Linked DNA regions of Homo sapiens. The protein of the gene in region 4 purifies or fractionates together with the protein of the main gene of each other region. This does not show direct contact. Each region holds a gene or a part of one and is shown on either strand. Other genes may lie near its edges. The genes, in order: ARFGEF3, ARFGEF1, TTK and NPY2R.

Region 1 (7,738 bases), on a different chromosome or scaffold from region 4:
GTAACATTTAAGGTATATGGTCACTTAATCTCCTGGGACCTGCTGCACCAACCTCAACCACTGACTCAGGGTTTAATTGAAGAGAGAAGTAAGTGTCTATGCTTTGTAAACCACTGTATTGTTGGGTCTTTGTTAAAACAACTTAGCCTTTCCATCAAATAACATGTACATGTTGCATCGTACTGAAGTTATTGATTGTTACGAGGAAAGTACTCATTAAATTATATGAACTCAGGAACAGGATTCATATTTTCCTATTTGAAAAGCAATCTCATTTGGCATTTTGAAGATGATATTTCACCAGAAGAATCTGCATATAGGACTAATTTTTTTGACATTTTAAACTAACTGAATTTGGATCTACAGGGAAAAAGTAACAATATATTTCAAGATGTTTAATATATCCAACACTAACCAATACATTTTAAGTAATCACTGTGGTTACTATGTGTGCACAATTTTGTAACACATAAAGAGAAAATTAATGAAGACATTTTGAATAGAAAAATGATATTAGTTATATTACGTCTCTGTTATAAACTTTAATAATTTCAAAAAGAGAAATTTGAAATATTGAGGAAAAAATTGATAAAAGATCTGTTTTCCAAAATCCTGAATCCATATTAAAGTTGATACTCAAAGAAGAAAGCTAATCTCTAATACTTTAATACATTGAAGAATGATTATAAGTTTATAGCCATTTTAGATTAAGATTAAAGAAGACTTTCCATTGCTAAACAGAGTTCACTGTTGTTATTAATAGCATTCACAGCAACTTATTTGTGTGAGCCAGAATTTTTAAGCAACAAAACTAAAAACATTGGAAAGAAATAGGCATCACAGAGCAAACCACTGTGATTGTCCTCATGCCCGCAACCCAGAATGAATTTAGGAACAGGCAAGTATGCCTGCTGCAGTGAATGAAATCATGCTTAGTAGTAACTATTCTAGTTAACAGTATGTACTGTTTTATACCTAAAACTGTTGTTTCAGTTTTTTAACATATCTATACATGTATGTAAACACTGGATGATAATGTAAAGCATATTTTCTACTGTGAGTTATAGAAAAAAAGTAGAAAGGTGTTTACTTTCCTTCATAGCCATCCACTGGGTTGTTTATCCGTGTGATTTCACCAGCTCTTAATCCACTGCAACCAGGCTGCAGTCATCATTTCTCCCGGGTCTGGCTTCCACGGGATCCTAACTCTCTCACATTCATTACATCATTTTCTGTGTTTATCTTTGTCCTTTCTCTGGATGTTGACCTTGTTGCCTGGATACTACTTTTATTTCATTTTTGTGCCACTTTTTTTTTTAGAATAACACTTCTGATTATAAAAGTAAAAATATTTAATGAAAAATAAACTCACCTATAAGCCCATCAAAGATAATCACTTAATATTTTGTATGTACTTTTGATAGATATGTATGTACATATATGCATGTATTTTTGAACTTATATATACATCTACATCAAATATTTAAATAAAATTGGAATCATGTAGTATACAAAAGTACATAGCATTTTACAATTTGCTTACTTAAGTATATAGTATAAGCCACTTTTCTTTTTTTTTTTCTTTCTCTGTCTTTTTTTTTTTTTTTTTTTTTTTTTTTTTTTTTTTGAGACAGTGTCTTGCTCTGTCGCCCAGGCTGGAGCGCAGTGGCGAGATCTCAGCTCACTGCAACCTCTGCCTCAGGGTTCAAGCACTTCTTGTGCCTCAGCCTCTTGAGTAGCTGGGATTACAGGCATGTGCCACCACACCCGGCTAATTTTTGTATTTTTAGTAGAGGCAGGGGGGTTCTCACCATGTTGGCCAGGCTGGTCTCCAACTCCTGACCTCAGGCGATCCACCTGCCTTGGCATCTCAAAGTGCTGGGATTACAGGTGTGAGCCACTGCCCCCGACACCACTTTTCATATTATTCAATATTTCTCTCCCACATTATTCTTTTTAAATTAAAAACAATTTTTTTTTTTAGTAGAGATGAGGTCTTGCCATGTTGCCCAGGCTGCTCTCAAACTCCTCGGCTGAACCAATCTGCCTGCCTCAGCCTCCGAAAGTGCTGGGATTACAGGCATGAGCCAACATGCCTAGTCCCCCACATTATTCTCAAAGGCTATATAATATGATGCTTTATGAATATATCATGGGTTATCTATCCATATCCTTGTTGCATATTTAGTTTTCTCTTTTTTTAGAATTGAAAGACACACTGAAATGCTTGTAGAAAGATCCTTATCCATTTCCATAATCACTTTCTTAGGATGAATTCCCAGAAGTGGAATTGTTAGGTCAAAGCTATACCTATGCCACATACACATCCAGGCTCCCTCCCTCCAGGAATGTAGTACCAAGTTACACTCTGACCAGCACCCAAGACATGAGAGGACCTTGTTGTTCAGCTCCTTCAATAACATTTAAAAAATCTCTCAGTCAATTTGATTAATAGAAAATAGCATCTTATTTAAAAGTTTGTTCTCTTTATTAGGCACTTGAACATTTTTTATAAGTTTATGGGGTCATATGTATTCTCTCCTCTGTAAACTGACTTTATATATATTGGCTTTTTTAAAAAAGAAGGAGCATTTGTTTTTTAATTCTTTGTTAAAGCTTTTTTTTTTTAACAAAGCTATTCAAACTTTATATGTCTGACATTAATATAAACATTTTCCTAGTTTGCAGCTTAAACGAAATTGTTTTTAATTGTAAAACTAGTAAATACTTTAAAATAGATTCAAAAATATAAATCCACATATAATTAAGATTTAGAGGTATCATCTTTTCTTCCTTCAATCCATCCCTCAGAGTATCATTTGCTTTTTAATTTTGTATGAAACTTTTGGCATAAAGGTCTTAAATATTCAAATAGTCAAATCTATTGACCTTTTTTCCTTCAGTTTCTGCCTTAGTTTGTTAGAAATAATCTTAATGCATTAAGATAAGTATATTCACTTATGCTTTCTTCTAAACTTTTCATCATTTAATTCTTAAATTTAATTTTTAATACATTTGTAATTTATTTTGCTACACGATATAAAGTTGTGATCTATATATTTTTCCAAATAGTTAACAATTTTCTTTAACCCAAGTACATTATCTGCTGCGGCGTTTTTACTTTTTTTTTTTTAAACCTTTCTTTAAATGATGGCTTCACTGGGCGTGAGGGTAGCGGTAGAAGCATCCTTGGGGGCTGGGACTTTGTAGGTTTTGCCTCCTCAGTACCAAGAGCGCCGAAGGAGTAGTCTGACATCCCCATGTGTTGGACACCCTCCAATGGCAGTCCCTCCCCTGGCTGACCCCCTACACCTCGGATTTCGGACTGCTCCTCTCAGCCTCCTCCCTGGGCCCTTGCTCCTGTACCCATGATTTGAGAATTAGGGGGGCCGTCACTCCCTCTCTTGTGCAACCTTTGTCAAACTCGAGGCATCAACAACTCCTATATTTACCACCCTTCAAATACTGGCATCCCTCCCAGAGCTCTATCCTGAGTTCCTGTCCATAAAAAAAATCTACAAGTATCTCATTATCATTTCAATCTGAACATGTTCAAAACTGAACTCATATATCCCCCCTAATCCAAACCCTTTTTATCTTCTCTTCTTTAAAGAATGGGGCCACCATCCTCCCAATTTCCTAAACAAGTAACCTGGAAGCCATCCCATATACACCGTCTCTCCCCTATTGTGTCATTAAATCCTATTGTTTCTACCCTTCAATATCTCTTGACATACTTTCCTTTATTCCCCTTCTACCCACCCTTGGCCTAATTGGTTTCTAGATTCCTGCAGAACCTTTGTTCTCCCAGCTGCCAGTCTGCCCCTCTGCAGTCCATCATCCTCACTTCCACCACAGGAACATTTTCAAAGAAAAAGGAAACACGGGGTGCCCTGTCACACTGCCTTCCCCACCGCCCGCGTGAGTCTCCTGGGGCTCCCCCTTTTCACCCCAATGAGAAGCCCTCTGCTGCGGCGGCCCTTGTGCACCACATTTTTCACAGGGCAGCAATTCAGCGCAAGAGAGGATGGGAAGGGGAGGAGATAGGGGTTTTTAGAAGGGGCTTTGGATTCAGGACGTGTTTGGAGTCTAACTCTTGTTGGTCTGGGAAGTAACCCAGCCTCTCTGGGCCTGGTTTCCTTGGGCATATCAAGCTCTACCCCAGCCCCACCGCAGCCCACCGCCCGCCGCGTGTTGAAAGCTTGACTGGAGTTTCCCTGCAGGCAGGGGCACAGTGTGTGCAACGCTGCATCGCCCGAGCCTGGCACAGGGAGTGGCCCAAAAAAGCTGTTAGTGACTGAACGCAAGAATTTTCCGGTTAGCAGACGACGGGATGCAGCGGGCGCGGCGCCTGCACCACGCTGGGGGTCCCGGTGTCCGGGCTGGGCCGCTCCGACTCCGCCCGCGGCCACCGTCGGCTCAGGGGGTGCGAAGACCGCGGCGAGGCCCCTCCCCGCCTGCCTCCCGCCGCCCGCCGCGGACCAGGCGCTCCCTCCCGGCGGCTGGCGAGCCAGCTCCGGACATCCGTCCCCACCTTTCCGCTAAGCGCGGCGCCCGCGGGGCCTGCCTCGGCGGTCAGGTCAGCGGCCTCCAGCCTCACTCTCCGGCCCCAGCCCGCAGCCGCCGCCGAGCGGAGCGCACCTGACCCAGGCGGGCGGGGCGGGGCGGCGGGCGGGGCGCGGGGCTGACGTGGCCCGCGGCATGGAGCGGGCGTGATTCATCAGCATCCGCGCCGGGGCGGCATGGGGGCGCGCGCGGCGGCCGCCTAGGCGCCCAGGGCCAGGCAGCGGCGGCTTCCCCGGCCCGGCTCGCCCGCGCTTCTCTCCCTGTGGGCGGCGGCCCGGCGCCTGGAAGGTCAAGATGGAAGAAATCCTGAGGAAGCTGCAGAAGGAGGCGTCCGGGAGCAAGTACAAAGCCATCAAGGAGAGCTGCACCTGGGCCCTGGGTAAGCGTCCGGCACCTGCTCGCCGCGGCGGGAGGGCCGCGCGGCCGGGGCTGAACCCGCGCCTCCGCGCGTGGGGCTTTCGCGGAGCGTCGGTCATGGGTGCCGTTCTGGCGATTGCGAGAGTCGCCTCGGGAAATTGATGTGGGATTTGAGAGTCTTGGCTCGGGCGTGGACATCAGCCGCCTCCCCTCCGGTCTCTTTCACTCTCCGAAACCTTCCTCGGGAACCGCTGTCCTCCCTGCCTGGCGGCCCCCTTCTCCTGGTCCCGGCGCTGGGGACGATGCTTCCCCATCGCCGAGTTAGGCAGGACCCGGAGCCGGTGCGAATCCTGGGGCCTGACAGCGAAGCGCCTCTGGGGAAAAGGGAAGTTAAACCAACAACCCCGATGTCGAATCCTTGGCGAGTGGAACCAGGAAGGAAAGGCTTGTTTAATTTGATTTTCCTGATAGAGGTCAGCTTGCTTAGTGTTAGCTTTCCTGGTTATTGCACATGAAAAATAACATACGGGCGGGGATCATGTTACCTCTGCAATTCTGTTGTGGTCTGCCCTTCAGACAGGTGGGATTTTAGGGCTGTGAGCTGTGCTAGCGTTGAAGTAAGTTCCAGGGAGCAAATTTGTGTTTCTCATCAGACTCAGGTTGCAGAACTCAGCAGCGGAAAAAAACGGAAAGACATTTCAGTTAGGCGGGGTTTGGGCAATCAAAATGGTCAGGATGGTAATGCAAATAGATCAGAAGCATACTTTGGGTGATGGTGATGCTTTTTAGAAAGGAAAGGCCAAGAAGAAGCCAGCGCAGCTAGCTCTATGGGCTCCTCTCTCTGCCTTGCTGGAGCCTGATGTGATGCCTCAGTTGCCACTCAATTGAAAAATGAAATTGACTCCCTTTCCCTTGCAACCAAGAACCATCACTGTCTGTCATGACACTGTGTGTGCTTTGATGCAGCCTGAGATAGAGAAGAGCCTTTAGCAGGTTTTCCACTAAATGTAAAATTTTGAGAGTGGTTTAGGTGACTCTTAATATGTAGATGGTCTTAATTCACATATGTTTGGGTGTGTGTACAGGTAATTATAGCAGCATCTTTTTTTAAACCTGTGCCTATCATCACAAAATTGTCTAGAATATTGTCTAGGAAGTTTGTCTTGTAGGTAGAACCAGCACTTGACCATTCTAGCTTACTGTTAAAGAAAAATGGACCAGAAATCTGAGAGAACAGCAAGGCTCTTAAAGCCACAGTACTATTTTTGCCGTTGCCATTGTCATTCAGCAGCGTGATTCGAAGCTAGATTCCAAAATGCCTCTAATGAAGGGTCACAGATGGCTGGGTAACATGATAAAGCAGGGCCCAATTGTGCTTTAAACATGCCATTCCTAGTATTCGTTATTATTTTGCTGCAAATTAAGCAGATTTAGATAAACAGGGAGGAGGAGATTAATCTAGTATTTTAATAAGTTTAAATACTGACATCAACATCTTATTAAGTGAAACCACAACGTTGCTGAGTTTAGGTCCTTTAAAGCCACTGGGGAGGCTGAGCATTGAGGCAGGTAAATTTTTCGAGTCAAATCTGAAAGAAACCAGCCTGAGTGGATGTACTTCCTTTCCCAGTGATTGTTCTGTCATTAGCAAGACAAGACAGAAGTGCATGAAATAGTTAAATAATAGTGCAGGGCATTCATTGTGCAGTTGGATTGGGCAAACCAGGAAAACAAGTCAAAGAAGGGAGGATAAATGTGTTGTCCATGGATTGGGGGAGAATTGGTGTGAGCTGGTGGGGCTTTTGAAGTAGATTTCACTTGAAGAATGGGGAAGCTATGGGTTCCTTCTTTCCGTCGCTTCTTTATTTAGGAAACATTTATTAAGACCTCCCTGGTAATGAGCAATGGGATATATGGATGAATAAAATGTTCCCTGTAAGGAATTTGTTAGAAGGGCATGCTGGAGACATGAACAAAGGCCTATAGGGATAGGTTTTCCTGTTGCCTTTCCCACTCCAGTCCATTTCCACTGCCCGTCACTGTTTAGATTACAAAACACCTGTCACTCTTCAACCCCCCAATTTATTTCTAGATTAATGTGTAAATTCCTCAGAATGCTCTTCAGAATCTAGCCCCAGCCTCTGTTCTTGTCACTCCCCAACCAAGATTCAACAATCTAGTGGCAGTCAGCTGCAGCACTTTGTTGAACATGCTGTGTGGCACACTTCTCTCTTTGCCTTTGCTCTTGCTAGTCCTTCTGTAGGGAATTCCCTTTTCAGACTTGGCAAGGTCCATCTTGTTTAGGAAACATTCCCTGAGCTCCTCAATAGGATAAGTTGTTTGTCTGGGTTCAGATCCTTGCCTTGATGACTCTCTTAGAGTACCTACTATTTTGGATAATAGTTGATTGTGTGCACAGGTAGGCTCTTACGGGCAGTGTAATTGACAAATATGTTGGGTGCAAGAGACAAAAAAGCTAGTTTAAGCTGAGCTATACAAAACGGGATTTATTTACTCCTTTAACTAAAATACCCCTTACAAGAATAGCTGTGATTTAGGAATTAGACACTGTTTCAGGGATCTTGTCCTGCTCTTTGTGGGTTGACTGACATGCTCTGCGTGGGTCTCCACAGTTTTGGGCTCATGAATCAACACATTTAGACCATCTCATGAAAAGAGGCAACAATAAACTTAGACCATCTCAGGAAAACACGTCTCATCCCCCACTTAGACCATCATGTGATGGGGAGGTCAACCGCTACTTAGGTCATCATGGGAAAGGGGGGTTACCTCTCACGTAGACCCTCATGAGAGA
Region 2 (7,000 bases), on a different chromosome or scaffold from region 4:
ATCTCACGTGATGGGTCACAGTCAAAACACAGTCAAAATTTTGTTTCATGCACAAAATTAACAACAGTGCATAAGACCAGGTGCAGTGGCTCATGCCTGTAATCCCAGCACTTTGGGAGGCCAAGGTCAGCGGATCACCTGAGGTCAGAGTTTGAAACCAGCCTGGCCAACATGGCAAAACCCCATCTCTACTAAAAATACAAAATTAGCTGAGCATGGTGGCGCATGCCTGTAATCCCAGCTACTTGGGAGGCTGAGACAGGAGAATCACTTGAACCTGGGAAGCGGAAGTTACAGTGAGCTGAGATCGCACCACTGCACTCCAGCCTGAGCAACAATAGCTAAACTCCGTCTCAAAAAAAAAAAAAAAAAAAAAGAATAGTGCATAAAATTACCTTTGGATTGTGTATAAGGTGGATGTGAAACATTAGTAAATTTTGTGTTTAGACTTCAATCTCATCCCCAAGATATTTCATTATGTATATGCAAATATTCCAAAGTCCAAAAAAAAAAAAAAAAACAAAATTGAAAACATTTCTGATCCCAAGCATTTCTGATAAAGGATATTTAATCTGTACTTCAAAAAGTTAACAGTGTTTCAATGAAGTAACACTTCATCATAACAACTAGGATGGCTAAAAATAAAAAGGCAGTAACAAATATTGGTGAGAATTTGAAGAAACGGGAAGCCTCATACACTGCTGGTGGGTATGTAGGCTGGAAAAGAATTTAGCAGTTTCTTAAAAAGTTAAACATAAATTTATCAAGTGGCCCACCAATTCCCTTCCCAGTTTGTCTACCTAGGACAAATAACAGTTTACGTCCACACAAAGACTTATACACAAATATTCATGGCAGTATTATTCATTCAACCCAAATATCCATCAACTGGTAAATGGATAAACAAAATATAGGATATCTAAACAATGGAATGCTATTCATCAATAAAAGGAAATGAAGTGTGGATACAAACTTCATGAATGAACCTCAAAAACATACTGAAAGAAACCAGACACTAACGACCACCTGTGTATAACTGCATTTCATGAAATGTCCAGAAAAGGCAACTCTAAAGACAGAAAATAGATTAGTGAATGCCAGAAGCTAGGGATGACAACAAGGGCACTACAGATTTTATTGAGGTAATAGAAATGTTCTAAAACTGGATTTATGCTGATGGCTGCATAATTCAGTAAATTTACCAAAAATCATTACACTCAAAAAAAGTAAATACTATAGTATGTAAATCATTTATCAGAAAGTTGTTTTTCAAAAAGTTAACAGTAGTTATTTATCTTCAGCTAAGAGTATCACGGTAAATTTTTTTTTTTTTTTTTTTTTTGAGACAGAGTCTCACTCTGTCACCCAGGCTGGAGTGCAGTGGCGCAATCTCGGCTCACTGCAAGCTCCGCCTCCCGGGCTCACACCATTCTCCTGCCTCAGCCTCCCAAGTAGCTAGGACTACAGGCGCCCGCCACTACGACTGGCTAATTTTTTGTATTTTTAGTAGAGACGGGGTTTCACTGTGTTAGCCAGGATGGTCTCGATCTCCTCACCTCATGATCTGCCCGCCTCAGCCTCCCAAAGTGCTGGGATCACAGGCGCCAGCCACCACGCCGGGCCCCGTATCACAGTAAATTTTATTGTTGTAGTTACACTTTTGAAAATGATTTGAAGGATTCGTTTATAAAAAATATCAAATTACCAAACTTACTGGAATTATAAAAGCATACAGACTGAGTAAAAGCCATAGAGATTCTCTTCTATATAAAGTGCTTGGCCTTCAAAATATGTACTTTGACTGCTTATATTTTTATTATTTCTTAGCAAAGTTCTGACAGATGAGGATTGTTAAACAGCTGATTAAATGAAGTCTCAATGTACACATTTTTGTTAAGAAAAATTAATAGCCTCACATGGCGTTTCCTAAAGACACGCCAGTGGTAATATGAAATATTTTAAAGATTTTCTTTTTTTTTTTTTGAGACGGACTCTCGCACTGTCTCTCGGGCTGGAGTGCAGTAGCACAATCTTGGCTCACTGCAACCTCCGCCTTCCAGGTTCAAGCGATTCTCCTGCCTCAGCCTCCTAAATAGCTGGGATTACAGGCGCCCACTGCCACCACGCCCGGCTAACTTTTTGTATTTTTAGTAGAGACGGAGTTTCACTATGCTGGCCAGGCTGGTCTCGAACGCCTGACCTCATGATCCACCTGCCTCGGCCTCCCGAAGTGCTGGGATTACAGGCGTGAGCCACCGCGCCCGGCCATTTTAAAGATTTTCAAAGACTTTTCTGAATGAAAAGATAACATAGGTTATATAAACAAATTTAGTTACATCAAGTCTAAGTCTAAGCAAAACAAAATATCAAAAGCAGAACACAAAACTTTTTAAATATTCTTAAATACTTGAGCCCAGACCTTTTAAGAAGCTTTTCAAGAGCCTCTACTTATAACACACTAAAGCCTCAGAATAACTGCTTTCTAGATTCATGAAACAATCAGAGATGAGCCAAAGACAGGATCTGATTGTGTAAACATATGTACAGTAGACTCTGTAAGTGGAAACTTGAATAAAGAAATCAAAATGGGTCTGAAAAGTTAGGATAAAAGGGAACTTGCATTCATTTCCTAAGGCTGCCTTAATAAATTACCATAAATTTGGTGGCTTAAAACAACAGAAATTTCCTCTCATAGTTCTGGTGGCCCAAAATCTAAAATCAAGGTCACAGCAGAGCTATGCTACATCCAAAGGGAAGAATCCCTCCTTGCCTCTTCCTACTTCTGGTGGCTTCTGGCATTCCATAGCATGTGGCAGCAGTAACTGATCTCGTCTCCATTTTCACATGGACTTTTTCCTTTGTATGTGACTGTGTCCCTTCCTCTTCCTTAAAAGGACACCATTCACTGGATTTAGGGCCCACCTAAAGGCTCTAAGTTGAGGATCTCAACTTCACCTTGAGATCTTTCACTACATCCACAAAGTTCCTATTCCAGGAAAAGAACCAGACAAGTGAAAGGCTCATTTCTTTGATAAAAAAACCTCCCTGCAAAAAACCTGACAAGGCAGGCCGGGCGCGGTGGCTCACGCCTGTAATCCCAGCACCTTGGGAGGCCAAGGCAGGAGGATCACAAGGTCAGGAGATCGAGACCATCCTGGCTAACACGGTGAAACCCCATCTCTAATAAAAATACAAAAAAAATCAGCCGGGCGCGGTAGCGCTACACGAGATTAGCTACTCGAGAGGCTGAGGCAGGAGAATGGCGTGAACTCGGGAGGCGGAGCTTGCAGTGAGCCAGGATCGCGCCACTGCACTCCAGCCTGTGTGACAGAGCGTGACGCCGTCTCAAAAAAAAAAAAAAAAAAAAAAACAGACAAAACAAATTGAAATTATTTTGTGTTATTCTCAGTAGAAAATATCCTATTATATCATCTGAAAATTCTATCATTAAAACATTCTAAAATACATATAAAAGGCAGGATGAAAATGTTTTACTGTCTAAAAATCTATTTCCCAAAGGCTTTTTCTATCCTAGTGTCCCCCATTGAGGTGAATGCCATCTTCCTCTACCCTGAAGCTCTGGCTACAAGACTGGATGCCATCCCCTCTGTTAACCAACCCATCAGCAAATCCTGTGGATTCCAAAATATATTCCAAATGCACACAATTATCACCCTTTCCACCACCACCAACTTAGCCTAAGTCCCCATGGTCTCTGGCCACAGTGAGCCTTTAAAAACATAAACATGCTGTCACTAAAATCCCAAATCTGCCCACCCCCTCCCATCTTTCTCTCTGTCTCTCTCCCAGCCACACAAGCCTCCTTGCATCCTGAAACACACCAAGCACACATCCATCTTGCTATTTCCTGTTTCTATTTCATCCAAGTATCTGAAAGACTAAATCCCCCACTTATGTCACTTCTTTGCTCAAATGTCATCTCACAGATAGGACTTTCCTGACAACTCTAACTAAATCAGTACTCCCACCCTTTTCCCTTTAACCTTCTGAACTCTTTCTTCTGATGATATAAGGTTGTTACTATCACCCTCACCCCACTAGAATGTGTGTTCTATGAAAGCATGTTTGGTTCACTGCTGTATACCCAGCAATGAAGTAGTATCTGGAACATATGAGGAGTTCAACAAATATCTGATTGAAATATATACCTAGTTCGGAATGGCAACAATAACTTACTCATGTATTTTTCCTTTTCAAATATCTTCCTTCCTCCATTATGTGAGGAATATTATGACAAATATTTCCCCAAATTATTTCCCATTCACAATTTTCTCTCTAAGTTAAACCTTACCAAGAGACACAAATGAGTTACCTGCCCCTAGATGGGGTGGGAAAGAAAGCTAGTCAGCAAACAGTCCTCTGATCTCGATATTTCTACTGCTCCTTATTTCGGACTTTCTTCTCCTTCCCACACTATTAACACATCTACTACTTTCCCCAAACCTGTGTTTAGAGAAACACAGGTTTGTGCACTGATTTCCCCAAACCTCTTCTAGAAGATGGTCTCACCAGTAGTTAGGGTTATTGTACTTGTCTTTCTTTCCCCAGTGTCCCAAAGTAAGTTCCAAGGAACAACATATCCTAGGGGAGTTAACTGAGTTAGCAAACAATGAAAAAGGATCACATAAATTCAGGAAGAACTTCATTAAACAAAATTGAGCAGGTGTCTTTCTTGGAGGACTTTTCAGAATCTTAACTATGTTCATGTGCATTATAAATTTCCCAAATGGAAACAGATTACACACTATAATCCAAACTTATTTTTTCAACCCAAACTTATTTTCTTCAAAGAGCTTCTCTAAGAACTTGTACTCTGCAACATTTATTTCAGTCAACACTATTCTAGAGCAAGTGTCCTAAAAACAAATCTGAAATGTGAAAGAAAAGAACAAATACAAATAGGATCAATCTTTCGGTTATGTCATTAATTATACTCTTTTCTTCTACCCATCTCAAAAATTCAGGTAGCCTGGCTTACTGAAAACACCTTTTACTTTAGATATCAAAGAAGGCTTAAACGGAGATTTGTTAATGGATTTAAATTATAATTAAGGTGTTCACTGATGGCAGGATATTGTTTGGGGATAAATCATTTTTTCATAAATGGTGAAGAGTGATGAAAATTAATAGTTACCAAAAGTAGCATAAAACCAGGGCCCAAAGCATTCAAGTAATTTCCCCTCCACTGACGTATCTTTTTTATAACTCCACCAACAAAAATAAGGGTGGGATTAAAGGGGCAGAAGGAAGCAAGTTCTGAAAAGTTTGAGTCTCAATATTGTATCTCTGGATGAAACTATAATTACAGGTAATAGACTCTTATATAAGAAAACTAAGTCAGCAGGATCACTTTATAATATGATGAACAATATAAATTCATACCCTGTCTGATGCAAAAATTACTTCCCTAACAATTTTGTCTCCATTATTTTCCCATATACCTCCTGGGAACCCACCCTTATCACTGCCAGTATATGCCTCCCTTCCCTTTAAAACCTTCTTCTGGTCAGCTCTTCAACTTTTTCACTCTTATTGTGTATCAGTGACAGTTTCCAACCTTGAACTCTTTCATCCTAACATTTGCAGAGTATCTTCATAGATACTCTTCATTCGATGTCAGAAAGCATAAGCTGAACTAGTCACAACCCTAACATAAAAGAAACTCCTGAAACTTAGAGGCCTTACTGGAATAAGTCCCAACTGCACCCTCCCTAGCAGATAAACAATGCTACCTTCAAGCCCAATCCCACAACAATCCTAAATTCTTTGAAACTAAAAATAGCTCAGCTGTTGTCTCATCTGCCAGCAGATGGCCAGACTATTTTTAAGTCAGGATTCTCGAGAGCAGGAATGGATCAGGCTAAGCTAGGGCAGCCTAGACTCCCTCTCTCTGCAGAGAGCTGTAGTAGGGCAGGTACCAAAAGAGGGCAACCTGGAGCTGTTCCTGGGCCTGTGGGCTTCTTATCAGTTGTAACAGTGTAACAGTGTGGGGCGGGGGGGGGGATTCTTTCTTTTTTAACCATTCTTTACTTCAAAATGAAGTCTGACATAAGAAAATTTGAAAAACGTTTTACATTAACTCTGCATCCCTTTAAAGGTTTATTTTTCTTTCTGTGAAAATAAAAGTTCCTTGAGAAGTCTTTGAGAATGGATTGTTTTAATGAAGTAAAATTTCCCCTAATCTACATGCTGTTTCATAAGTTATACTTTTTGACAAAAAAAAAAGTTTTAAGAATACACAATAAGCTGTAATTTCATGAGTATAGTTTACAGAAAATCCATCTATAATTGGCCATATGTTAAAAGGTAGCTGAATTAATTTTGAATGGCAATACTCAGAAATCTACTCACATGCCAATACAATGATTTTCAAACAAAAAAGGATTAAATGTCTGACATACTATGTATTTTCCTGTTAACTGTCCATCTCCCTTCAGCTGTATGCTCAATAAATATTTGGGGAAAGAATGAAGACAGACAGGTGGGTATTTAGAAGGGTTATAACACCACCCACAAAATGATCTCTGTATCTTCACCATCCAACACCTACCCACTCACAATCTATAGAACCGAGAGGACTAAATCAGGCCTTTTCAGTTTGCTTTCCCATCCTGCTTAATGGCCACATAGATTACCAACAGACCAGAGCGGGCCTGGCCCAGGTCTCAATAGTGAAGTGGAGAAGATAAGTCTCTAACGGTCTTCAAGGACAATACATTTGTGGGAATACCATCTTCCTGCAAAATATACTTTCTGCAAAGACAAAATGAGTTATGCTTATCAATTTATGTTTGGGTGGTGATGTAGATAGACTGCAAGGGAAGAAACAAAGTTCACCAGGGATTAGCTACCATGAGATTACTGAGATTTTGCTTTGTTGGAGGCTAAATGTAACTTTACGAAATGTGGGAAAAAATGCCTCATACATCTCAAGTAAATAAAGTACTGTGGTGCCTAGCCCTTCCCTGGATAGTCACAT
Region 3 (7,876 bases), on a different chromosome or scaffold from region 4:
GTAAAAGTTCATATAAATACAAGTAACTTATTTATCGTGTATTTATCTTTTATGAAGGTATACTTTATCCAAAAGCTATATATTTTGAAGGAAAGAAAACATTTGGAAATAAGTGAGTTTTTTTGTAAGTAGCCTTTAAAAATTGTATGTAGTTTAAGAAAATTTTATGCTGTTGCAGGATAACTATAATTTTAGCATCCTACCTATCCATAGAAAACTAAATCTCTCCCACTGCCACTTGTACTAATTAACTTAGAAAATTCTCCCATCAATGATTTATTCATTAAACCTACTGCTCCAGTCCTAACATAACCTTCTTTACAACCTTAACCATTCAACATTATCTCTGTATACCTCATACTTACTTGTAAAACCAAACCAGCTTTACAAAAAATAAACAAATGAGACAATCATTTTCTTCTCTCCAAGTAACCTAAATTTCTGCTAGAGGCCCTGATAATTTCTTGGTCCAACAAACTCATAGTTACCGTGGTCTAGACCTTTGGAATTTATAGGACCTCTTGTGACTGTCAGGTTTCTCTCTGTGGAACCCCAACCAACAGAAACAGCAAGAATAACCTTCAGACAAAATGTTCACACTGAAATGTACTTTTTACTTTCTTCAGTGTTAGTTTTTTAAAAAGATAACTTGAATGTCAGTCTTCTGTTCAGGATATTTTGGTTATTACTAAGCAATATTAAATTCAGATTTCCAGAGAAGCTATTATTCCTTCTATTAACTTCAGTCACTTTCAACAAAGCCTACATCTTTACTTTTATAAATAAAATTTGTTTCTACTTTCTACTAAAATATAGTGCATGCATAACTTTGCTTTGTCGTTTTAAATTTAATTTGGTCTGACCTTAATTTTCTATTTTTACCTCCTATTGCTTTCCTAAGAAATTAGTCTGTGAAATGTCTAAAAAACACACATTGCCATCTGTGGCTTTGCAGATGCATTCCTCATGCCTGAGTACCCTATTCTTCCTCTAATCAACAAATAAAACATTTGTGTTTTATCATGCTAGTATTCCTATGATGCCCAGCATGCATTACAATGTAGCATAGTGAATATATAAATTCTCATCTAGAAAGAAACTATGGTTTTAAGCATCTTTGAATCTTCCTCAGTACTTAAAATACTCAATTGCCTTGATGTACAACCTTTGTTAGTGACATAATTAAGCACAATTATACTCCATTAAGATTTTGCTTAACACTAAAACTATCATTTTCTAGGTTTTTTCAAAGTGAACAGTCAGCCACCATGATTAGATCACAGGTTCTTCCATTTATTTTCAATTCCTCATCTATTTAAAGGTTAGTATAGATGTAAGAAAATTATCCAAAGGTCACCATTCAAATGACCAACCATTTGAAATACAGTAAAGAATCAGGCTTCTGAGCTAATACTTTTAGAAGAGCTAGAGTATTAAACTCTGGGCATTTTCACCCATTAATCATTGTTCAATAAATGTTTAAGTGCCTACCTACCATGTGCCAGACACCATTCAAAGTTCTGTGGATATAACAGACAAAAACCCTGCCATCATGTAGCCTGCATTCTAATGGAGGAGAAAGACAATAAACACATGAGTAAATTATAAATAAAGTGATTAGTACTATATCTTTACCTTAGAGGATACCCAACAAACAGTTACTAACTTAAAAGAAAAGAAAAACTCACCTGTAGTATCAGCAGAAATTTTATTCAAGCTTAGTTCATCAGTAAGGTCTTCATTTTTAAACTTATTTTTAATGTCTCTCACTTTGTTCATTATGGAATCAATTGTCAATTCTCTGCCACTTAAATCCTCGGATTCCATTTCTAAGAAAAAAACTGAACAGTCATAACTCCTACTTTAACTAGCATCAAAGAAAAAAATGCACTAGCTTTTTAGAACCCAGACGACTAAAGCATTCGTTTTGTGAACACATCTAAATGCAGCTATTATTAGGCTAGTATTAATGGAGGTAAGTGCACAACAACAAGGTACACATCTTTGTAATTTATTCACCAAGGTTTCATAGGCCAAGTATACTTTTTCCCCCAATATAACATCAATGACGTCACACTGTAGAAATCTGCAAATTTAGTGTCACTTAAAAAAAATATGATAGAGTGTTTGCTTGGATTTTGGTAGCGACATACACATAAAGATTGCTTGGATTCTGGTAGTGACATAGACATAAAGAATTCGTTTGGCAATGGGAATAACAATTCCTTTATTCGCCTGCTTTACTTGAGTAAATCTTCCAGTGCAAGTGCTTTCAAAGCAGAATATAAACATGATGGGGCTTTACTGATAATTAGGAAATCCGCAGATTTATTCTTGTGCATATCTAGCAGAATCACGATTTGCTACCTTAATCTAACACTAAGAAACTATTGTACTGGTACTGAGCACTTGCTTATCTGCATGGTGGTGGTGTTTGTTCAATAAAGTGTCTGCAGTCTTATTGTTAATCGTATCTTTGTGACTCTCAAACACCAACTCAGTGTCACTGATAACAATGCTGCCCCGTCTTCAGGTTTAACAATGAAAAAAAGTCATAAAGTTGCAGCAAGGTATCACTCCACCTCTTAAGTCAGGTTTGAAAGATAACTGTCAGATCACGGCCACCCGCTTCTTTCCCAGTTCTAACCCCCAAAACAAGAGAGACTGTCCTTTGGAAAACGATCTTGTGCGCAGGTACCCCACCACCCCTTCTTTCCAGCGTGGGCCACACCCACTTCTTACTTCCTCAACAAAACCTCCTGCATCACCCCACCGGCCAGACCCGCTGAGGCAGTGAGACATCCCCTCCCCCTCCAGCTCGTTTAGCCGCGTCGCATACCTGGCTCCGAGCTGCCCCCACCTCGCCCCACCCCTCACCGACCAGCGCTAACAATGAGCCCCTACACCGGCTGCGGCTGTTCCTCAGTGCGCCGGTGCACCGGTAAGACAGAACTTACCTACAGAAAGCTGCGCTGGGGAAATGAAAAGATGGAACCCAAACTCCTTTCCGCAAACACGTTTGAATTTCCCCGTCGCTATCACTACGGTCTCCTATTGGTCAATGCTAGCCACGTAGAAGCGACAGTCGTGATTGGTTCTTGTGCGACGGGGGCCGCCCCTCCTCCTGCGTCAGGCTAGGCCCGCCCCGGAAGAGCCTGCGGCCGCGACCCCACCCGTGCGGCGCCTGGGTTGGTAGGGTGCTGGCACTTTGCAGGCGTTCCCCGGACGCCCGTGGGCGGGCTTTCCTGGTCTTTCCAGTTTAACCAGGCCGAATTTTTGCCTGGGAGGTAGCCACTCCCGAGCAAACCTACCCAGTGAGAGGAATATAGGGGCAGGGACGGCTGCTCCTAGCATCAGGACCTAAAAGATGCACCTTGGGCCGGCCCTTTACTGACCCCACCGCCACCCTTCTCCTTCGTTTCCCGCGGTTCTCACAGCCTGGCTTAGAGAGGATGTGGCAAGAAAGGATCTTTCACTGAGCTACGTTCAGCCCTGCCGCCAGCTCAAGAATTTCAGTGCTTTTTATCCTTGAGCTTCTGCTTATGCCCTTCCATTATCCTTAAATGACTCCACGCTCTGTCTTCAAGCCAAGACCCTCCCCCTTGTCAAAATTCTGCGCAGAACTCAAGCGCCCATCGTGATTGCCCTGTCTGAAGTCGCCTTATCGGCCCCCCTCCCTCGAAGCCTGCCCCACTTAAGGGCTCAGGTGTCCTCAGGGGTAAAAACATCTCCCTAGTAATAATCTTCGCGGGTGCGAGGCTCTGCCGCTAAGTGGCTTTGTGGTCCAGGGCAACGGTTACTCCTCGTCTGCAAAACTAAAAGGGATGTGTCTGTTGTGCCAGCATTATGACATATATTCTGTGGTAGGACGGGTTGGTTTTGTGTATGTATAGGAAACTAACTGCAGCTGTCACTTGTTAACTCCAAAGCTATCCTTAGAACCCTCACATTCCCAGCTCTGGATAGCCACCCAGCTAGCGTGAGAGCCCTTCTCAATCACTTAATGCATCTTTCTGTGTCAGCTAGCTAGTATTTCTGCTTCAGCAGAGCAAAATGACTTGCTATACCATGGTTGGCTAATCACTTACCTTTGCACCATTGCATCTAATGCTTCTGCCTGGAAAGAGTTTATTATTCCTCCAATTCTCGTTGATCTGTTTGCGGCCTGATCACAAAGCTTGCATTTTCCTTAAAATACTGTTGCTGGATGACCTCACCCTAACACTTCTTTCTGTACTCTCGTTTGGTGGTCTCCTTCAGTCTTCTATTTTTAAATACCATCTATATGTTGATGGCTCCCAAATGTGTATCATTAGCTGAGCTCTCCTCAACTCCATACTCAGATATCCACTGCCTACTTATTAACATCTTCACTTACATGTCTCATACGCATCTTGAACTCAAAATGTCCAAAACCAAGCCCCTGATCTTCCTACCCAAACCTGTTTTTTTTACAAAATCTATAAAAGACAAATTCATTGTCTTAAATTTTTTAGCCCCAAAACCTTTGTGTCATCCCTGATCCCTTATCTAACTCATAAGCAGATTGAGTCAGGGCTGGCACAAGAGATTCCTGGACTCCTACCAGTTCTCCCCACCTCCACTGCCACCACTTCAGTCCAAGGCATCTGCATCACTTAACTGATGTTACCTGCAGTAGCCTCCTGGCTGGTCTCCCTGCTTCTGCCCTTGCCTCACCTCAATTTATTCTCTGACATAGCAAAGTCATCTTAAATCAGATTATGTCACTACTTTGCTCAAAACCCTTCAGTGCTCCCTTTCTAGCTCGGAATAAAATCAAAAGTCCTTGTGATGGTCTGTGACTATTGAGCACTTGAGTATGTCTAGTGCAACTGGGAACTGAATTTTTAAATCAATTAACCTTAATTGATTAATTAAATTTATATTTAAATTTGAAAACTGATATCTAATGGGATTATTTTTAAACTATTTAAAGTAATTTTTTTTGCTTTCTTTTTTCTAAACTTGCATTAGTCATGAATTTATTGGAAGACTTTTAAGTATACTTGGAACAATGTAAGTATATGAACCTACTTTTTCAACTGTAAATTTTGTGAGAACCAAATGCAGATGAAGTATTTCCAGTGAAAGTGTCTGAGTATGAAATGTGATGTACTGTTAAGTATAAAATACACTCTGGATTTTGAAGACTGAATAAGAAAAAGTAATAAACATTGATAATTTTAAAAATATCAATTACAGGTTAAAATGATATTTTTGCTATATTGAGTTAAATAAAATATATTATTAAAATTAATACCACCCCATCACAGAGGAGACTAAGAAGACATGACAACTAAATGCACTGTGATATCATAAACTGGATCCTGAAACAGGAGGATGACATTAATTGAAAAATTAGTAAAATTCAAATAAAGTCTGAGGTTTAGTTAATGAAAATGCACTAATGTTGGTTTCTTGGTTTTGAAAAATGCATCACAGTAATGCGAGATCTTAACAGAAAAACAATGAACAGTATACAGCAATTCACTGTACTATTTAATACACTTGGAATTTTTTTGTAAATTAAAAATTATTCAAAAATAAAAAGTTTATGAAAATTTAATTTCACCTGTTTCTTTTTATACTTTAATATGGCTAGTAGGAAATTGAAAATTACATATATAGCTTACATTGTGTTTCCACTGGACAGCGGTGATCTGTAAAATCCTACAGTTTTACCTATTTGACCTATTTATTTATCTTGTTTATTTTCTGACTCTCCAAACTTTACCCCCACTAGAATGTAAACTCCATAATACAGGAATTTTTGTCTACTTTGTTCATTACAGCATCCTTAGTGCTTAGAACAGTGCCTGGTACATTTGTAGGCACTTAATAAATGTTAGCTAAATACTAATATTTACAACCATTAGAGTATTTAAGAATCCTATTTTATTTAACACATTTGTATACTTCTTGCATCACAGTTTCTCATTTGGCTTTAAATCAGCTGCATCTGACAGTGAATAAACTTGTTCATTTTCAGAGTCAAGCCTTTCACAAAGCAATAAAATTAGCCATAAGATTATGACTTATTGTAAGATGGTAAGTTTCACATTTTTGTCACATAAACAAAAGTTTCGAATGTTTAACTTTGTCATTATCATCATGAAACTTTTTTGCTGATCTTTGACTTCTCTGTCAGCACAGCTGCCTTTTTTATTCCATTATTTATTTACTTATTTATTTAAATCCCCTCCAAGGAATTTTTTTTTCAATTATTGAGGTCATTGTTACACAAGCTCAGTAAGGCCCAAACTTTGATTTTAGAAACTAATTATTATACATGAATTTATTTTGTGCATATACAAAAGTTAAATTTCTGATCAATAATAAATCCAGTTCTTACAGCATGCAATCAGTTGTGTGCTGCTTTATGGTGGTTTATTCTGGATAAAACATTACTAGTGTATGCTGATTTTAGTGCATTTAGGAGTGACGTGAGCCCATAAGAATGTTGAGACCTGTATGAATACTGTCAGGAAAGCTAACTATCACAGAATGGACCAAGCCATACCCAAAAGAAAAGAAAATAATGCCAAGGAGAGGTACCAACGTACCTCATAGATCACAAAGAAAAACAGCAATGACAGCTTAGATTATGTTCTACAAAGGAAAACAGCAGTGACGAGTTAGGACCACTACTTGGACATCAGGTATTATTTAATCATGCAGGCAATAAACTATGCTAACAAACAGCAGAAGAAAAGTAGGATTCTCAGTTCCTATTTTTCTTTTTTCTCCAATATGAAGAATAGCAGTCAGACTGACAATCTTAAAAATAAATACAGGACAGGCTATATAAGAAAGACATTTAAATTCCATCCAAACTCTCTGACACAAATGAAGTGTGTGTGTATGTATGTGTGTGTGTGTGTGTGTGTGAGAGAGAGAGATAGGCTCTGGCTTTGTCACCCAGGCTGGAGTGCAGTGGTGTGATCTTGGTTCACTGCAACTTCTACCTCCTGAGCTCAAGCCATCCTTCCACCTGAGACTCCCAAGTAACTAGTACTACAGGTTCATGCCACAACACCCGACTAATTGTTGTATTTTTTGTAGAGACAGGGTTTTGCCATGTTGCCCAGGCTGGTCTCAAACTCCTGAGCTCAAGCAATGCACCTGCCTCGGCCTCCCAAAGTGCAGGGAAGCATTGTGATGGTCTGTGATTACCATCACACCTGGCCATAATTTTTTTTTAAATGTATCCAGGTTGGGTGCAGTGGCTCATGCCTGTAATCCTAGCACTTTGGGAGGCTGAGGCGGGGCAGATCACCTGAGGTCAGGAGTTCGAGACCAGCCTGACCAACATGGAGAAACCCCGTCTCTACTAAAAATACAAAATTAGCCAGGCGTGCTGGTGCATGCCTGTAATCCCAGCTACACGGAAGGCTGAGGCAGGAGAATCACTTGAAACTGGGAGGCAGAGGTTGTGGTGAGCCAAGATCTCGCCATTGCACTCCAGCCTGGGCAATAAGGGCGAAACTCTGTCTCAAAAAAAAAAAAAAAAAAAATATATATATATATATATATATATATCTCCATACATTTTCAGTCTCTGCTATATAGAGAGAGCCTCACGTAGTTGGTTAATATACCACAATATCCTGAAGAAAATAAGCAGGATATTGAAAAAAAACGTGCAAATATAATCCCAGAAACATTGCTGGCAATCTCTGAAAAGTCATAATAAGTAGAAGCAATGATAGAAAGCCAGAAATGGATGGACAAGTGTTACCTTTTTGGAAAAGGTAGAATTTGGAAGCTATTAATCTCTATAATCTCAATGTAGATTTTAGAATTTTAGACCCCTTCTGGGATCAATTACCGAACTGTTTGGAAGCAAAGATCTCTA
Region 4 (7,190 bases):
TGTTTTGCATGATCTGATAATAACATACATGTATGCTTTCATTAATTTGCTCTCCCACCAAAGGATCTGCACCCACAGGTTGACAACACTGGCCTATAGAAGAAAATCCCAACTCCTTAGCCTGACATTCGAGGCTTTTCTTGAACTCATCCCTGCATATCCCTCTGGCCTCATCTCTGCTGACAGCCCAATATATACTGTCCACTTCTGTCATACTGCCTTACTTCCAATTCCAGTAACACCTGAGCCTTTTTCATGCCTCTCTGCCCTCCCCGTTTTAAACTGGGAAGCCTCTCAGTTACCCCAAGCCCCTGTGCTCACTTCTAATGCCGCATGTACCACATGCCACGTTGTGACTGTTTTCCTTCGTTTACCCACCACAGCAATCTCTTTGAAGACAGAACCTAGACCTTCTTCCTCCATTGTTTAATCCCTAGCACACTATATAGCATATTAAAGGTACTCAGCAATTTGTCAGAACAAATATAAAGCTAAAGGAAAGCACAATTATACTGAATAATCAATGTCAGCCAAATGGAAAGTATAATTTTGATCCTTTCCTTTACTGAAGACAACTGCCTATGTAGGGTTCTTCCCTATGACATAACATCCATATGCTTATTTTCTTATTCTTAATCAGATAACTGCTTATACAAAAAAAAAATTGTCCTGAGACCCTGTTAAATTAATTCCTGATTATAACATTTTAAATTGTCAGTATAACCCATAAAGAAAACTTTCTGTTTCAAAGGTTTCTGCTCCCCCAACTCTCTTTCTCCCGCTCCATTTATCTCACTTTTTTTTCTCTTTCCGCATCTTTCCCTCACTCTCTGTCTCTCACCACTCACCCTTCCACAGGAGCCTTACTATACAGAGAGACATGAGAGTTTCCATGTACTCAGGTGTTTGCCGTACTGATATATTCCTGCTCCCTCTGCATAAATTTCACATAGAACATTCCAAGGAGCCCCAGCCTCTTTTCACATGTGCCTCCACTCCTTAGTAATTAGAGAAATCTGAAACAAATCATTCATATCTTGGAGTGTATGTTTGATAGCCCACACCATATCCCCTAGACTAAGAAAGAGACTGGTTTTAGAGTACAGTTACTCAATCCTGACAAGCCATTTAGCCATTTACAGAATTAAAGAGACTCCAAGAGGCTGGAGTTTGGAGGTTATACCTGACTAAATTGAGAGGAAGCATGAGATTGAAGGTTACTAGGAGGAAGAGTATACTTGATTTTTTGATTTGCTTTGCTTTTTCTTCTCAGTCTTGTTTTATAAATTTTGAAGCCCTTTTATTTACAACTTCTCTGTAGGAATGGTTGTTGATCTACAAGCTCTTAGAATATAGACAGTGTTAGCTGTGCTTAAGCAGGTTACTCCCTTCAGCCAGGTCAAAACATTACCCAGAGCAGAAAATGCATCATTTCATGACAGCACTTCTGGAAAAGTGGGAAAGGAAAATGGTACACAGAGGAAGTTGCCATCAAAAGCACACAAAGGAAACAGCAAGCAGACAAGGGAATAACCTTTCTTTGAAATAAGGCAAAATGAGATATTTACATTACTTTAAGACATTTAAAGAGAACTTTTACTGGTACAATTTTCCTGAATAAGGGAATCCTTAGAAACTTTGTCATAGAAACATTTCTTTGCAGAATAGGAAAAGAGTTTCAGGACTTCCCCCAGCAGCCCACCACCCGAGATTCAAATAACCTCAAGTTATTTGAGTCAGAGACCAGTTCATGCTTTGAGGAGAGATGTTTAAATCTGTGGGGGCTTTTTGCAACAATATTGTCACAGGTTGGCCTTAGTAAACCTACACATCTTATCAAGCACAATGTCTTCCAGAACATTTTTCCCAGGGAAAAATATCTCAGAAATCAGTCTCAGAAATCAAAAGCCCTGCATTTGCCTACACTAATTAGTTCTAGGAATGGGGGCAGGGGAGGGGGAAGAAGGGAAGTTTCAAGAATGCTACATACAAGACATGATTGTTTGGCTAATCAGTAGAAAGTTGAAAATATTCACCAAAGGGTGTGGGAAGCCTTTCTTTGGAAACAGCATCTCCATTTCATGTCACTGAATTTTAAATGATGTGTACCTATTGCAAAAAGTCTCAAAGCTTTTAATTTTGCCTCTTTCCCTGCCACCAAAAGCTCCTGCCAGTGGGTGAGCCTTTCTGATGGAAAATGAGCAAACGCTTAAATGAATGTGTCTCCTCTTGAACGGCTTTGGAGAATCCAATAGGACCTTCTGCTTTAGACAAGTGTTTGATTTTTAAAGAGGCAGGAACAATAACAACTTACTGTTCTGGAAAGATAATGACCTATCTCAAAGAAGGGTCAAGGAAATAGTAAATAATCTTCAACAGAAAAGGGAAAATCTAGAGAAAGTAGAAAATGGGGATGGTATTACATCCTCCAAATCGCCACCTCCCGCCTAAAGGAGGAGGAAAAAGTCCATACACTCATGAGGACCTCCTCATGTCCCTCTTCATAGGAACCGAGCGCTCCTCTAGGGATTTTCTTGTTCCCAGGAGGTGATCAGAGTTAGGAATTACACTTACTGACCTGGACCTCGCGTTTTTGCGGAGACGCGGAAACAAGATGTGTGCAGTCCGTCTGTCCGATGATTAGCCAGCCGACCTGGAGAGGGCCCTGGAAGGTGCCCAAAGGCAAGTCCGGTTCCGTCCCCTCCTAGGGTCCAGGACAGCCCGCGCCGCGCGGGCGGGCAGCCGGAGCAGTCAGAGCGGCTGGGCGGTTGGCGCTGCCGGGTCTGCTGCCGACCTCTCAGGCCAAGCGCGCCTGGGCACCGCACTCACTCGCGGGGTGGGCGGGTGAAGGTGGGAGGATCAGAGATGGGAGCGTGGGGAGGGGGGCAAACCCCACCCTTAAACACAAGAAAACAGGTGCAGAGGCTGCGGGCGATGGTCCTGCAGGGGAGGGGACTGGAGGAGAAGTTTTGGTGGCGAGGGAGCAGGAACAGTGTCCAGGGTCTCTCAGCCGCCTCCCGGGCTTGCAAGCCCGCTCAGCCAGACCCTACCCAGAGGGGCGCCCCCTCGCGGGTCCCCAGCCACCACCTGCAGCTGCTGCTGTCACCTACTGTGCCACCCCCAAGTTTGATACTCTGGGCGTTTGCGCCACCCCTACCTCCCTTCCCTTCCACGAATCTCTCCCTTTGCTCTCTACCCCCCAGTTCCGCGAGAGCTGGCCCGGCGAAGACAGACCTCCTGGACTTGAGGCCGACTTCACCAAATCCGCCCCGGGAAAAGGCGAGGGCAAAGGCGGGGCGGACAGACCCAGCTGCGGCTGAGGGACTGCGGTCCCTAGCAAGGCAGGCGAGCGAAGGAGACCTCAGGCTGGCGGGAGGAGGGCCGGGGCTGGAGAATCCCCGCGCCTCGTAGGGGCTGAGAAAATTCCACAACTTCCAATCGAGAGTTGTTTTCTTTTGTGTGTGTAGGAGCAGAGATGGGGAGCTGGATCCGCGCAGAACCCCGGAAAAGCGCCAGCAGGATTGCACCGAGAACAAATCCTCCGCACCCTCGCCCAGGGCTGGGGCGCAGTGCGCTGGTGCTCCTCTAGCTGGGCGGTCCCTGTGCTCCAAACGAGAAGGTAAAGCGAGTTCAGATCCTGCTGCCCATGATCAGCAATTTCCCTAACAGGTGTCTGCAGACAGTTTATAAGTTGAGTAGTGCAGATTCAGACTCGATAGCCAGGAACCTGTGTAGTGAGCTCTGGCTCAGGTTAAAAGCTAGGATAGGGATAGGATAGGAAAGCTATGGGACACGAATAAAACACAATCTCTCTCTCTCTCTCTCCAGATAGCTGACTTCCGAATCCTTCACTCTTTGATCCTGACCCAAGCCACTCGTGCCACTAGGAGCGCATGCCTATGGAATACTCGCTCCTGTCTCCTTGTGGTGAAGCCTTCCGCTAATGCCCAGAGCCTCCCAGGCTGGATTAGTGGGTAGGAGCAAAACAGGATAGTGGAGACAATCAGCAGAGCAGCAGCGTCTATTTCCTCGGGATTCCTCCCAGGAACCCTATTCGAAGCCATTCCTTCTAAAAGTTTGCAGCCAGTCTCTCTTTCCTTTGTTGGTTTTAAGAGGAGGCAGTAGAGCTACCTACATACAAAAACGAAAGCCTGATACTGGTAACCTAAGTCTTTACTTAACCATCCTCTTCGGAGGCTTTGCACACATTACTTTTCCTCTATGCATTGTCATTTCTGAAATAAGGATGGTCATACTGGTGTGCTTGGAATTTCTCTGAAATATACTCCTAAAAGATTAGATTAAGATTAGATTCCGCTACTCTAAAATGAAAAAAAATATTTATCTGTTTAAAAAGGTAATACATATTCTCCAAGATGTTAATTAAAGGCTTCCCTCAAATGGATTGGATTTTCAGTTCCTTCAGGGTTTTCCACACCCTAATAGTATTGCATTTGTAAGGCATTTTTACAGTGTAACCTGAAATTAATCTTCAGTTAATATAGAATTATGCCCACAGGAGTATAGGAATTGTTTATAAAACAAAGCAGCCTGGGCTTTTCAAATACCTAGAAACAAAGGTAAACAGAAATGGAAATATTTAACATGTTCTACACAGTTCCACTTAAAGTCTTTTAGTAGTTGTTTTTGTTTTGTTTTGTTTTGTTTGTTTTTTCCTTAAGAAAGTACTCTTTGCCCAAATATGTGTTATATGTGACAGGTTCCATTCTTCTCAATATATCTGCATTGGTGAAGAATGAACCATATACCAATAAGTTATAACTTTAAAAGAGTAGAAATGGATTTAAACAACGACCACAAAAACAAATCAAATATCCAGCAAAACAGATGAGTGTTGTCTTTTAGAGCAATTGCTTTGGAAAATTCAACTGATTTCACTGACATTGATTGCACAAAACACATTTTATCTTCTTTAAAATTGCCTTTCAGAAGCGTATTAGCAGCCATAACCAACTATTTGCCTCACTCTCTTATAGACGTGTGTTTGTCTTAGTAGATTCATATAGTTCCACAGACATCTAGTCAGCAACCTCAAAAGAGTAAATGGTCTCTATGATTAATGTCCTTTAATAAAGTTCAGAATTGGATGAGAAACTGATAAACTGAAATGAAAGTCACTTCATAGTGTATCATATTATCAAGGAGAGCTGTGGGAATTAGCTTATGACACTTTTGTGCATCACAGTCTAATTCATATCCTTAAATGTGCATACATATCCTGTGTATTGTAGTAACAATGAACCACTCTGATGAATGTCCATAAACCCAGTTGTGACACTGACAGGAGTTTGGGAGTTTGTGGAAGTGGTGGTGAAATATCGATTAATCCAAATTGAAATAGGACAAGATTATTGATGCTTGATTTCTTTTGTATCAAATCATTTAGTTGCTCAGGAAATTCCATTTCTAACCAGAATATGTGCTGTGACTGCTCTTCAAATAGACAACAGACTCAAACTCAGATGCCTGCATGGTTAGGGCCAATGACATAAATGGACCAGCATGCTAGGTTGTAGGAGAGAGTGGAAAATGTTGATTGCCATAACACCTTGAAGAGCACAAAAACACATGCTATAGCTAAATGGGGAGATTGCTTCTCAGAGTACACTCAGCTGGCCTGCAAAAATCTTGATTCAGTATTGTCAGATACGATTTTTAAGAGAAGCAAAATCCATATTGTTAAAAATCTTCTGAATTTTAAATAAACCAAATTAATTTTTAAAAATCCAAAACTCCTAGTGGACAGGCCAAAATAAATAAGAAATCATAGATAGATAGATAGATAGATAGATAGATAGATAGATAGATAGATAGATAGCAGCCTGACTCATCATGGGCCTCCAATATTGTAACATGTTATATTAGTATTTGATGTCTGACAAATCTCCTTAGATATTTAAAACATAGTTCTACTACCATTTCCCCTACCCCATAGACCATTTCTCAATGCACAGAAATACAAAAGGAATACAGCCAAAGATTAGTTGCCAAATAAGTAATTTTCTTTTCCATTTCTGGTTGAATAGATATTCCCAAGGAGACTCTGAAGTAAGAGATTTGTTGAATAACTGAACAATCCAAATATTTTAGATAGCTAGATGAAATTTCAGAAAAGCTCTCCATTAAAAAAGTTCAATAATATCAGTATTGAGGACCACTTGTGATACATACTTATTAGATAAAGAAAATCATGATATAGATTTCCTGCACTGTAATTTCATTTTAACAGCAAAGATGCTTCCCCCACGGTATAAATAATTTCATTGTTATTTTGATTATAAAAATTATAATCATTGTAAAAGTTAGAATAAACAAAAACATCATAGAAGAAATAGGCATTATCTAAAACAATGCAGTCCCACAGAACTTTCTGCAATAATGGAAATGTTTTGTATCTGGGCTGTGCAGTACAGTAGCCACTAGACATATGTGGTTATTGAGCACTTGACGTGTGGCTAGTGCAACTGAAGAACTGAAATTTTAAATTTTATTGAGTTGTAGTTAATTTGAATGTAAAACTAAATATAGTTGACCCTTGAACAGCACAGTTTGAACTGCACAGGTCCACTTAAACTCAGATCTTTTTCACCCAAACACAAATGGAAAATACAGTGTTTGCGGATGTGAAATGGCCTTTACAGAAGGTCCATTTTTCATATATGTGGTTCTGCAGGGCCGACTGCCAGACATGAATATGCAAGGATTTTGGCATATGCAGGGGTCCTGAAACCAATAGCTGCTCTCCCCGCCCCCCGCCCCAGTATACAGAATGACAACTGTAACCACATAGGGAGCGTAAGTGGTGGACTGTATAAAGTCTAAAATTTCATCATCCAGCATGACCATCATCAGCATATTGGTGTAAAATCTCTACTTTTAATTAACTTGTAGCCTGCCTTCTCAACTTTTAAGCTTAAAAATATGTCAAAAACATATTTCCATTTCCTTAATATAATAAATATACATCCTTCCTTTAATGGTTGCCTAGTCATAAACTGTATGATTATATTCTCATGAGTTATTGTTGTTATGGACAAAACTGTGAGAAATGATCTTGGATATATTTGCAGTACCTTTGTCCAGTTATTTCTTTCACATAAATCCAGCAGGGAGTAAGAGCGAGGTATTTTAAAATTTTTTCCTTAAGCCAAGTTCACATTACATAAACC

What was found.
Region 1: the proteins of NPY2R (region 4) and ARFGEF3 purify together in Homo sapiens (affinity purification with mass spectrometry; 2 studies listed by BioGRID and IntAct, with this or other methods). This does not show direct contact.
Region 2: the proteins of NPY2R (region 4) and ARFGEF1 purify together in Homo sapiens (affinity purification with mass spectrometry; 2 studies listed by BioGRID and IntAct, with this or other methods). This does not show direct contact.
Region 3: the proteins of NPY2R (region 4) and TTK purify together in Homo sapiens (affinity purification with mass spectrometry; 2 studies listed by BioGRID and IntAct, with this or other methods). This does not show direct contact.

The regions. Positions count from the first base shown.
Region 1 is NC_000006.12:138,157,227-138,164,964, forward strand, and holds the start of ARFGEF3 (brefeldin A-inhibited guanine nucleotide-exchange protein 3), read left to right. Parts: upstream 1-4,712; 5' UTR 4,713-4,860; coding exon 4,861-4,945; intron 4,946-7,738. UniProt on the Homo sapiens protein: Participates in the regulation of systemic glucose homeostasis, where it negatively regulates insulin granule biogenesis in pancreatic islet beta cells. Also regulates glucagon granule production in pancreatic alpha cells.
Region 2 is NC_000008.11:67,333,782-67,340,781, forward strand, and holds part of ARFGEF1 (brefeldin A-inhibited guanine nucleotide-exchange protein 1), read right to left. Parts: intron 1-7,000. UniProt on the Homo sapiens protein: Promotes guanine-nucleotide exchange on ARF1 and ARF3. Promotes the activation of ARF1/ARF3 through replacement of GDP with GTP. Involved in vesicular trafficking.
Region 3 is NC_000006.12:79,999,795-80,007,670, reverse strand, and holds the start of TTK (dual specificity protein kinase TTK), read right to left. Parts: upstream 3,023-7,876; 5' UTR 2,958-3,022; intron 1,842-2,957; exon of another isoform or gene 1,830-1,841; 5' UTR 1,828-1,829; coding exon 1,689-1,827; intron 1,567-1,688; exon of another isoform or gene 1,496-1,566; intron 1-1,495.
Region 4 is NC_000004.12:155,204,454-155,211,643, reverse strand, and holds the start of NPY2R (neuropeptide Y receptor type 2), read right to left. Parts: upstream 3,009-7,190; 5' UTR 2,575-3,008; intron 1-2,574. UniProt on the Homo sapiens protein: Receptor for neuropeptide Y and peptide YY. The rank order of affinity of this receptor for pancreatic polypeptides is PYY > NPY > PYY (3-36) > NPY (2-36) > [Ile-31, Gln-34] PP > [Leu-31, Pro-34] NPY > PP, [Pro-34] PYY and NPY free acid.